Linked DNA regions of Homo sapiens: region 1 is linked to region 2. The links come from fine-mapping of genetic effects on gene expression. A gene starts in region 2. The other region holds a variant in brackets. All regions are shown on one strand. Distances are between the middles of the regions.

Region 1 (5,320 bases), 33 kb after region 2:
AGATCACGAGGTTGGGAGATGGAGACCATTCTGGCTAACACGGTGAAACCCCGTCTCTACTAAAAATACAAAAAAAATTGCCGGGCGTGGTGGCGGGCGTCTGTAGTCCCAGCTACTCAGGAGGCTGAGGCGGGTAAATGGCGTGAACCTGGGAGGCGGAGCTTGCAGTGAGCCGAGATCGCATCACTGCACTCCAGCCTGGGCGACAGAGCGAGACTCCGTCTCAAAAAAAAACAAAAACAAAAACAAAAACAAAAAACATAAATAAAATAAAACCATCAGATCTCGTGAGAACTCATCCACTATCACGAGAACAGCATGGAGGAAACTGCCCCCATGATTTAATTACCTCCCACCAGCTCCCTCTTATGACATGTGGGGATTATGGGAACTACAATTCAAGATGAGATTTGGGGACACCGCCAAACCATATCAGTGTTCAAGTTCGAGTGTGCAGTGAGAACCTAAATTTCTAGTAAATTTTACCTAAGATGTATTGGGATTAAGCATGTGACTTTGTTCACAGGGCATCAACTTTCCCACCGAGATACTTTTCACTTCCAAAGAGAAGAAAAGTTTTGGATCATGGAGACAGCAACCCAAAGAGAAGGGAATTCAGGTAAGAACCAAGCAACGATGCATCCTTGTACGTGACCCTTCCATCTGTTTTACTTCTGTCCATTGCCCAACTCCATTGCCCTGGTATAAATGGCCAAACCTGTTTCCTGGATTCTTACCTCCTTCCTGCTGGTTGTCCTGCTCCCCCACCCCCTCTTCCCACCCTGACATCTGTTTTCCTCATAGCAGCCAAAGTGATCCTTAGGGAATGTAAGTCAGATTGCCATTCCTCAGCTTAAAAGCCTTTATGGCTTCTTATTTGTGTTAATGTTACAACTGCTTTAAGTGCCTTTTAGAGACCCTTGATCTGCTCTTCATCCCCTACTGCCTCTCTGACTACATCTCCATTTTCCAGCCACGTTGTACTCCCTGCTGTTTCTCCATCCTGCCAAGGACACTGTATTGCCTGTTGCTGTCACCCAGTGACCACACACTTAGCAGATTAAACAACAAACAATTATCTTTCTGTTCTTCAGATCTGAAGTCTGACACATCTCACTGGACAAAAATCAGGGTGTCCCTAGGGCTTTGTTCCTGTCTAGATGTTCTTGGGGAGAAGCCTTCACTTTAATTTACCAATCCCTAGGCACTGTCCACACTCCTTGGCTCTTGTCTCCCTTCCTCCATCTTCAAAAGCAGCTACATTGCATCTCTAACCATTCTTCCATAGTCATCTGCCACCCTTCTTAAGCCTCTGTTTTCCACATTTTGGGTCCCTTGCGATTGGATTGGTCACTCCTGCATAATCTAGAATGACCTTCTTACTCTCTCTTTAGCTGACTAGTGACCTTAATTGCATCTGCAGCCTTAATATCTCTTGCTATATAACATAACAGGTTCATAGGTCCTGGGAATTGGATGTGGACATCTTTCAAGGACCATTGTTCTGTCTACTACAGAAGCTTCTGTCTTAGAGTTTATATATGCTCTTCTTTCTGATTGGAATACTCTTTCACCTCAAGACCTTCTGACCCTTCCTTTATTCTGGTCTCTGTTCAGTTTTAATATCATGAGAAAGGCCTTCTCTGACCACTCTATTTAAAATACCAGCCGGGCGTGGTGGCTCATGCCTGTAATCCCAGCACTTTGGGAGGCTGAGGCAGGCAGATAGCATGAGGCCAGGAGTTTGAGACCAGCCTGGCCAGCATGGCAAAACCTGACTCTACTAAAAATATAAAAATTAGCTGGGTGTGGTAGCACAGTCCTGTAATCCCAGCTACTCGGGTGGCTGAGGCGTGAGAATCACTTGAACCCAGGAGCCAGAGGTTGTAGTGAGCTGGGATTGTGCCACTACACTCTAGCCTGGGTGACAGAATGAGACTCTGTCTCAAAAAATAAATAAAGAAATATATATATATATATATATATATAGAGAGAGAGAGAGAGAGAGAGAGAGAGGGAATGGAATACCATCCTATCTTTACCCTTCTGGTGTTGTCTTATACTGTGTCTTATATATTTCTATTTAGCTGTCATCTCTACCCACTGGAATGGAATGTCTTAAGAGGAGGACTTTTAGCTGTTCAATTTTTATTTTAAGATTCAGGGGGTACATGTGCAGGTTTGTTACCTGGGTATATTGTGTGATGCTGAGGTTTGCATTGCAAATGATCCTGTCACCCAGGTACTGAGCATAGTACCCAATAGTGGTGGCAGGATAACCCTCAGGTTTTAAGGCTATGTGTACCGGTGTTAGAGGTAGTGGTGATGGGCTGGGTGGGCCAGTCCTGAGGCCCCCACATGGTGTGTGCAGGTGAGTGTCAGCGGTGATGGTGGCAGCAGGCTTGTAGGACCTGTCCTCAGGTCACTAGGAGGAGTATACAGATGCCAGTGGTGGTGATCAGGGCAGGGAAATCCTTAGGTCTCCAGACAGCATGCTTGGGCACCTGCGGCAGGGTTCTGGGTCTGTTGTAAAGCTCCCTGCATGGTACATGCTCATGCCTGGGGCAACCAACATGGCAGGGTGATCTCAACAGCCCCAGGTGGTATGCTTAGGTAGTGGAGGAATGACGCCAGGCCAGGTGAGCCTGTCCTCAGGCCTTTCAGTGGTGCAGGCAGATGTAGGCTGTGGTGGAAGAGGCGGCGTGATCCCTAGGTCCCCAGATGGCATGCTCCAGCACTGGCAGCACACAAGCTGGGTCTTTGTCAGGTCTCCTGTTTGTGCACACATGTGCCTGAGGCAACACAGGGTAGAGCAATCCCCAGGTCCCTCTGTGTCATGCTCTGGCACTGAGATGGGCGGTACCAAGTGAAGTGGGCTTGTCCTGTGCACGGGCACAGGTTGTGGTGGGCAGTGCAAGGGACTCCCCATGCCTTTAGGAGGTGTGCTTGGGTGGCAGTGGCAGAGTGTGCAGAGAAACTTTCCTCAGAATGAGAACACATATGAGTGTACAGTGGCCCTGCTGCTGGGGGTGAGGTAGCATTGCCGTTAGAGGCAGCAGCCCCAGACAGGCAGCTTTCAAGCTCTGGTGAGTGCACACACTTTGGGTCCCTTTGTACTGTACTGGGGGCAGCCTCCCTGGTGTCCTTCACGGCCCATTCCCTAGAGTATGGGACACTATGTGGCCTAGATTGCTGGGGACTCTGCCATACTGCTGGGTCTAACAGGCATTATTGTAACCCTCTGGGTGGATGTGGGGGCATGTCCATGGGGCTTCAGGGATTTGGAGATGCAAAGGCTGTTGGGCCCCAGGGCAAGATGCAGTCTGGTGGGGGTGCAGCTCTCAAAATAGCGCTGTGCCATAGCTGCTTGAGTCTC[A/G]GGAAGTGTGTGGGTCCCATCATGAGTACCCTCTCTGAGTGCCATTGCATGGACTCCAGGTAGCCCCCTGTGCTAGTCTCAGGGCCCACAGGGGTCGAGGGCCTCTCTCATGGCTGATTGCTGGAGTGCACAGCGGAAATGTAAACCACTAGGGCTCTCTCACTTACCCTTTCCCAGCACTAGGAGCCTTTCCCGGCTTTCAGGTGATCACGGCCAGAAGGGCTACCTCCCTTCGCTCTCCTTTTGTGCTTCGGGTGTTTCCTGTCACTTCTCTGCTGAATTCCAGTGATCCCTCTTAGATGCTATTTGATGTATGAGTATCTATTTGCTTTTTAAATTTTTTAGTAATAAAATATATAGAACACTTCATGAATTTGCATATCGGCCTTGTGCAGGGGCTGATCATTCCAGTTTTACCATATGTGCTGCTGAAGTGAGCACTACTCATTATTTTGGCTCTTTGTGGAGGACGCAAGCTCTGGGTGTCTTTAGTCAGCCATCTTGAAGTCCTCCTACCCTTAACGTTCCTTCTGATTCATCACATATATAATTTAGTAGTTACATAATATACCATGCAAGATTTTAGACTAACTAGGAAATTGGTAGAAATAGTAACACATTAACTGTATTATATTAATATTTTAAATTAAGTCTTTCATTTCTACCACGTATGAGACATTATGTCATTCAAAATTGGTTTCGTGACAACGAGAGACCGTGGTGCACTTGGAAAACACAAACTGTACCTTCCTTGTATTCAGTAAAGTTTCAGGCCATGTCCTAAGTGAAATCCTGAAAACACTGAACAAAGGTTTCACTTACCCACATCTCTTAATTCTGTGTCCTTATAGGAGGCAAGATCCAAACTGAGTTGGAGTCTGTTCCAGAAACAGGACCACATGAAGAGTGGTCTTGCCAGCAAATCTGGGAACAAACTGCAAGTGAGTTAACTAGACCTCAAGACTCCATAAGTAGCTCTCAGTTCTCCACACAAGGTGATGTCCCCTCCCAGGTTGACGCAGGACTATCTATAATTCACATAGGAGAGACACCTTCTGAGCATGGGAAGTGTAAAAAATTCTTCAGTGATGTCTCCATCCTTGATCTTCATCAACAATTACACTCAGGAAAGATATCCCATACATGTAATGAGTACAGGAAGAGATTCTGTTATAGCTCAGCTCTTTGTCTTCATCAGAAAGTTCACATGGGAGAGAAACGCTATAAGTGTGATGTGTGTAGTAAGGCATTTAGTCAGAACTCACAACTGCAAACTCATCAGAGAATCCACACTGGAGAGAAACCATTCAAATGTGAGCAGTGTGGGAAAAGTTTCAGCCGTAGATCAGGAATGTATGTTCATTGCAAATTACACACAGGAGAAAAACCTCATATTTGTGAGGAATGTGGGAAGGCCTTCATTCACAATTCCCAGCTTCGGGAACATCAAAGAATCCATACTGGGGAGAAGCCATTCAAATGTTATATATGTGGTAAGAGCTTCCATAGTAGATCAAATCTTAATAGGCATTCCATGGTCCACATGCAAGAGAAATCATTTAGATGTGATACCTGTAGTAATAGCTTTGGTCAGAGATCAGCACTTAATAGTCATTGCATGGACCACACAAAAGAGAAACTATACAAATGTGAAGAATGTGGAAGGAGCTTCACTTGTAGGCAAGATCTTTGTAAGCATCAGATGGACCATACAGGAGACAAACCATATAATTGTAATGTATGTGGGAAGGGCTTCAGGTGGTCCTCATGTCTTTCAAGACATCAGCGGGTCCACAATGGAGAAACAACATTCAAGTGCGACGGATGTGGGAAGAGATTTTATATGAATTCACAGGGCCATTCACATCAGAGAGCCTATAGAGAAGAAGAACTGTATAAATGTCAGAAGTGTGGGAAGGGCTACATTAGTAAGTTTAATCTTGA
Region 2 (5,402 bases):
TACTGGAAACTGAAGAAAGCGGGGTTCTTGTTATAAAGGGGTAAATAATTTGGCTGAATTATATTCAGGTCCTAGTGTTTTTTGGTAGGTAGAACTTGTGAGCAATGTAATTGAATATTTAGCTGACACTATTTCTTAACAATGTGTTGAAGTTGCATCTTGAATAATCTTGACTACCTATAGTAAAATGTAGAAAGTGAGAAGTGACTGAAAGCCGGAATTACTAATTAAAAGGTAAAGAGAACTAAATACTTTTAAAATTTGCAGCTTATCTACTTTGGAAAACATGCAAAACCCTGTCCTGGAGAAAACAAGGGTGTGGCTGAACAACTGATTTATGAGATTAGTATGGATTGACCATGTTGACTCAAACCAGGACCTATTGTCCAAGACAATGGAAGAATGACCCCAGAAGTATTTCACAGATCTTGGAGGCTGCTCCTCCCATCAGAGGCCCAGAGCACAGGGACGTGGGCAACAGCAGGGACCTTTGATGCCAGGTGCCGCCTAACATCTCAGGCTCAGCTCCTTGCATACACTACCACTGAGAGTATCAATAAATTTTATCTTTTGTGAATGCAGAGTAGAGTAAGGATACAGCTGTAATTGGTATAGGAATAGCCATCACTCAATTTTCAAGGGGGCATTGAAAATTTGTTTGGCACTATGTGGTTGCTCAGTCACCTTAATTTTTGTCCAAACCAAACTGTGAAACGTCAGCCAGGTGCAGTGGCTCACACCTGTAATCCCAGCACTTTGGGAGGCCAAGGTGGGCAGATCACGAGGTCAGGAGATTGAGACCATCCTGGCTAACACAGTGAAACCCCCATCTCTACTAAAAATACAAAAAATTAGCCAGGCGTAGTGGCACATGCCTGTAGTCCCAGCTACTTGGGAGGCTGAGGCAGGAGAATCACTTGAACCCAGGAAGCAGAGGTTGCAGTGAGCCGAGATCGCGCACTGCACTCTGGCCTGGGCAAAACAGCAAGACTCTGTATCAAAAAAAAATTGTGAACAGTCTTTTTTTAATTTTTTTTTATTTTTTTTTACTTTAGGAAAATGGATACAGGACATTAGACTCTTTTTAAAAAGAAAAATATAGGTCGACAGGTCAATGTATGTTTATTTGGGAGGACAAAAAATATGGTTTATCTTCAAAAGAGAATTTTAGATGAATTGTTTCCTGATTTAGCTTTATACTATTATTAATGTCTTTCAACTAACATATGCCAGTTTTCAAATTGTTTCCTATAATGAAGATATTTTAACCAAGAAATGGAAAGGAAGAAACTCTTAATAATAAATCATGCTCCGTCACCTATAGAATCTTCTCCAGTTTTATGGCATTGAATCAGACATTGGGTGTCAGATTGATACCAATGCCAAGCTCTTCAACAGTTATACTTGCTTTAAGATACTTAGCAATTCACTAACTTCTCTGAAATTTAGCGTTTCTACATCTAAAGTAGAAATATTACTACCATGAGAATGTTAAATGTAGCTTTTCCATGAGGACACAGCTTCTCCATTGGTGGCTGGAATTTTGTTTTTCCTGTCAAACCAGTGGTACCACAGCATCTGGACTAGGGCTGTAACTGAGAACCACCATTTTTCTAAGAGACAGCTTATTTATTTCTCTCTCTTTTCTCATTCCCTTAGTTCCCCACTTCCTATGTAGCCCTTTAAAAATGCAAATATAGACTTTTACCTCCCCTTCACCAGACACTTCCTACAGGGAAAGTTCATCTAACTGTGTGCTCCAAGCCAGAACTCTCCTCCAGAATTAACAGTCAATTTACAAACTAAAGCATGCTGGCCTCTGAACTCTCACTCACCAGGAGGTTGCCTGAAGAGACAACAGTTGAAAGCGTGCCTGCTACTCTCTCCCTTCTGGTTACAACTTATTTCTGCCCATGAAAAAGCCAGCTCAACTGCCTAATAGATAAGGCACCAAGCCAGCACACAGACCCCTTCCCTCTTCCTCCCCTACCTTTTAAAAGTGCCTGCTTTCTGCTCTAAAAGCCAAGCCGTGCACTTAAAGACAACACCTGTGCTACTTCCCCTACGCTAGCTCTAGAATAAATCACTTTCTTTATACCAGATCTCCCTCTTGTTAACTGGACGTTGCAAACGGGAAGCCACTGATCTACTTTTCAGTTACAGGGGCTGATGCTTTCCTGGCTTCTCATTGCCCCTCCCAACCCATTCTACCTGGCTCATTCTTTAAACCAGTGGTCCCCAACCGTTTTAGCACCATGGACCGGTTTTGTGGAAGACAATTTTTCCACGGACTGGGGAATGGTTTCGGGATGAAACTGTTCCACCTCAGCCATTAGATTCTCATAAGGAGCGCCTGACCTAGATCCTTCGCACGCACAGTTCACAATAGGATCCGCGCTCCTATGAGAATGTAATGCTGGGCTGATCTCACAGGAGGTGGAGCTCAGGCCATAATGCTCCCTCACCTGCCGCTCACTTCCTGCTGTGCCGCCCGGTTCCTAACAGTCAGTGGACCGGTACAGGTCTGTGGCCCTGGAGTTGGATATCCTTGCTTTAAACCCTGAGCCTCCTTTCAGCCATCTGACGGCTCAACAGTCACTCTATCTAGCTCCTTGAATATTGTATCTCCTCGCTTGTTCCCTGTCCAAGAACACTCCTGTCAATCATGGGAGACATTTAGACTTCATAAATTCTTTCTATTCAATATTTTCGCTCGAGGACTCTGGGAAGGACAACTGTCAGGGTAACAGTCTGCATTCCCCACCAGGAACCTGGGGCTATGAAATTCGTTCCCCGTGGGTGTTGCGGGAAGTGTAATCGAGGAGCACCATGTAGTCGCAACACTTGAGCCTAAAGGGTGAGGTGATGGACATTTTCCTTTTGCATCTGAGGCTCTGCAGTCCAGACACCTTGCGGGATTCCTGATACTTCAGCTCAGGTAGGCGTTTCCGGAGAATTCTGGGAAGAGTAGTCCATTTTACGGGAAGTGTAGTCCACTGGCTCGTGGAACACTGGGTATTTTGGCTCTGGCAGGTGAACCGTTGAATTCTGGGAACGATAGTCCAGACACTCTGCGGAGTCCCGGGCCCTTTGGCTCAGGGGGGCGGGTCCGGGGAATTCTGGGGAGTGGAGTCCAGACACTCTGGCGCAGAGAGGACACTTCCGGTCTCCTAGTCTGAGGTTCCTGCTTTAATGACCGGGGTAGTTTGAGCCATTTCTGCGTCTTGCAGGACATTTTGAACGAACCCCCTTTGCTTGAGGCTCGCAACCACCCGATGATCGATGATCGTCTCAGGGGAAAAGAAGCCTTGGCGAAGAGCAGAGGTTTAGAGGTGCGAGGGCGGGGAGGGTGTTTATTGTTCCCGTCAGCGGAGCCTTCTGGCGTCGGGGGGCTTTGCTCGCCTCCCGGGGGGTGGGATTGGGGTGGCCTTGTGTGCCCTGCTCTGAGGGTTTCCAGGACTTTGACCTCGCTCAGTCCGCCTCCCTACGTATGCAGTGTGTACACTCTTTCTCGCAGTGTGATGTGGAATGTTAATGTCTCTGTACTTCCCATTGCTGTTCTTTAAAATGGTGCTTATAGGGTCATCCTAATAGAATTGTTTTGCGAATTGAAAGAGATAATACAAATGAAAGCCTTAAAGTTGTCCCTGTCACTTGGTGAGTGGTCTCTTGTTGCCTGATATTTTAAAACGTTTGATATCATTTCAAAGCTATAGAAAAATTGCAAAAACAGTATAAGAAATTCTCATATACCCTTTACCCAAATTTGCCAAGTGTTTACATTTTTCCTGTTTGCTTTGTTGATGACCATCAACCAAATACCACCAGGAACATACCTGTAACCAGAGACAGCTGATTGGTAGCTTTCTGCAGCAAGGAAGCCCACATACCACGGTAATTGTGGGGTGTCTTGGTAAGAGGCATTTAGGAAGGGCTGGTTATAGGGTTTCACATAACATGGTAGATAATATTGGATATTATGTTAAATAATACTGTTACCGATTACATGTCAGATAGATGTGTTAAAAGAATACTAGTATTTGTAGTGTACTTACTAGATAGTGTTGGATAGCATATTACCTAGCATCATGTTATCTAATCTGCAGTTCCATATACGAATTTGTTAAATTTTTCATTTAAAGTCCTTATGACTGTCCTCTGCCCCACCCTTCACCTATTCAAAGTCCAGTTTATGCGTTGTCTTTAGCTGTCACATTTCCATAGTTGTTCATTTGGAGTTTGATATTGAAGGGGGCCTGCCTCTCCACACCTGTGGGTGTTTCTCACAAGGTGGAAATGAGAAACTGAGAAAAGAAATAAGACACAGACACAAAGTATAGAGGAAGAAAAGTGGGCCCAGGGGACCGGCGCTCAGCAAATGAGGACCTGTACCGGCACTGGTCTCTGAGTTCCCTCAGTATTTATTGATCACTATCTCTACTATCTTGGTGAGGGGGATGTGGAAGGACTATAGGGTAATGGTGGGGAGAGGGTCAGCCGGAAAACATGTGAGCAAAGGACTCTGTCATAAATAAGTTTAAGGAAAGGAGTTGTGCCTGGATGTGCACATAGGCCAGATTTATGTGTGACTTTACACAAACATCTCAGTGCAGTAAAGACCAGTATTGCCGCCAGTATGTCTCACCTCCAGCCATAAGGCGGTTTTCTCCTATCTCAGTAAATAGAATGTACGATTGGGTTTTATACCGAGACATTCCATTCCCAGGGATGAGCAGGAGACAGATGCCTTCCTCTTACCTCAACTGCAAAGAGGCCTTCCTCTTTCACTAATCCTCCTCAGCACAGACCCCTTATGGGTGTCGGGCTGGGGGACGGTCAGGTCTTTCCCTTCCCACGAGGCCATCTCTCAGGCTGTCTCAGTGGGTGGAAACCTTGGACAATGCCCAGGCTTTCTTGGGCAGAGGTCCCTGTGGCCTTCCGCAGTGTATGGTGTCCCTGGTTAATCGAGACTGGAGAATGGCAATGACTTTTACCAAGCATACTGCCTGCAAACACATTTTTACCAAAGCACATCCTGCACAGCCCTAAATCCATTAAACCTTGAGTCAATACAACACATGTTTCTGCGAGCACAGGGTTGGGGCTAGGGTTACAGATTAACAGCATCTCAAGGCAGAAGAATTTTTCTTAGTACAGATCAAAATGGAGTTTCTCATGTCTTCCTTTTTCTACGTAGACACAGTAACAGCCTGATCTCTTTTTCTTTCCCCTACAGATATATTTCACATTTAGGTTTAGATTATACATTGTTGGTGGGGATTCCACAGGAGTGTTAAGATGCCCTTTTCTTTTTTTTTTTTTTTGTTTGAGACAGTTTTGCTCTTGTCACCCAGGCTGGGGTACAATGGTGCAATAGGATGCCCTTTTCATTGTAACATAAC

The links. PIP is the estimated chance that this variant, and not a neighbour inherited with it, causes the effect.
Region 1: its variant is fine-mapped to the expression of ZNF223 in whole blood (TOPMed, PIP above 0.99).

What each region holds. Positions count from the first base shown.
Region 1 is chr19:44,081,487-44,086,806 of GRCh38, forward strand. ZNF284 (zinc finger protein 284) reads left to right here. Exons shown (of 5, transcript NM_001037813.4): 4 at 527-619; 5 at 4,228-5,320. It also overlaps the pseudogene RNU6-902P. Among named protein-coding and RNA genes, the nearest start is that of ZNF224, 10 kb to the right of the region's middle. The variant A/G (reference allele first, on the strand shown) is at 3,377.
Region 2 is chr19:44,048,864-44,054,265 of GRCh38, forward strand. It overlaps ZNF223 (zinc finger protein 223), which reads left to right and starts at 3,173. Exons shown (of 5, transcript NM_013361.6): 1 at 3,173-3,332. RefSeq lists enhancers at 2,839-3,340, 3,160-3,399 and a silencer at 3,060-3,119.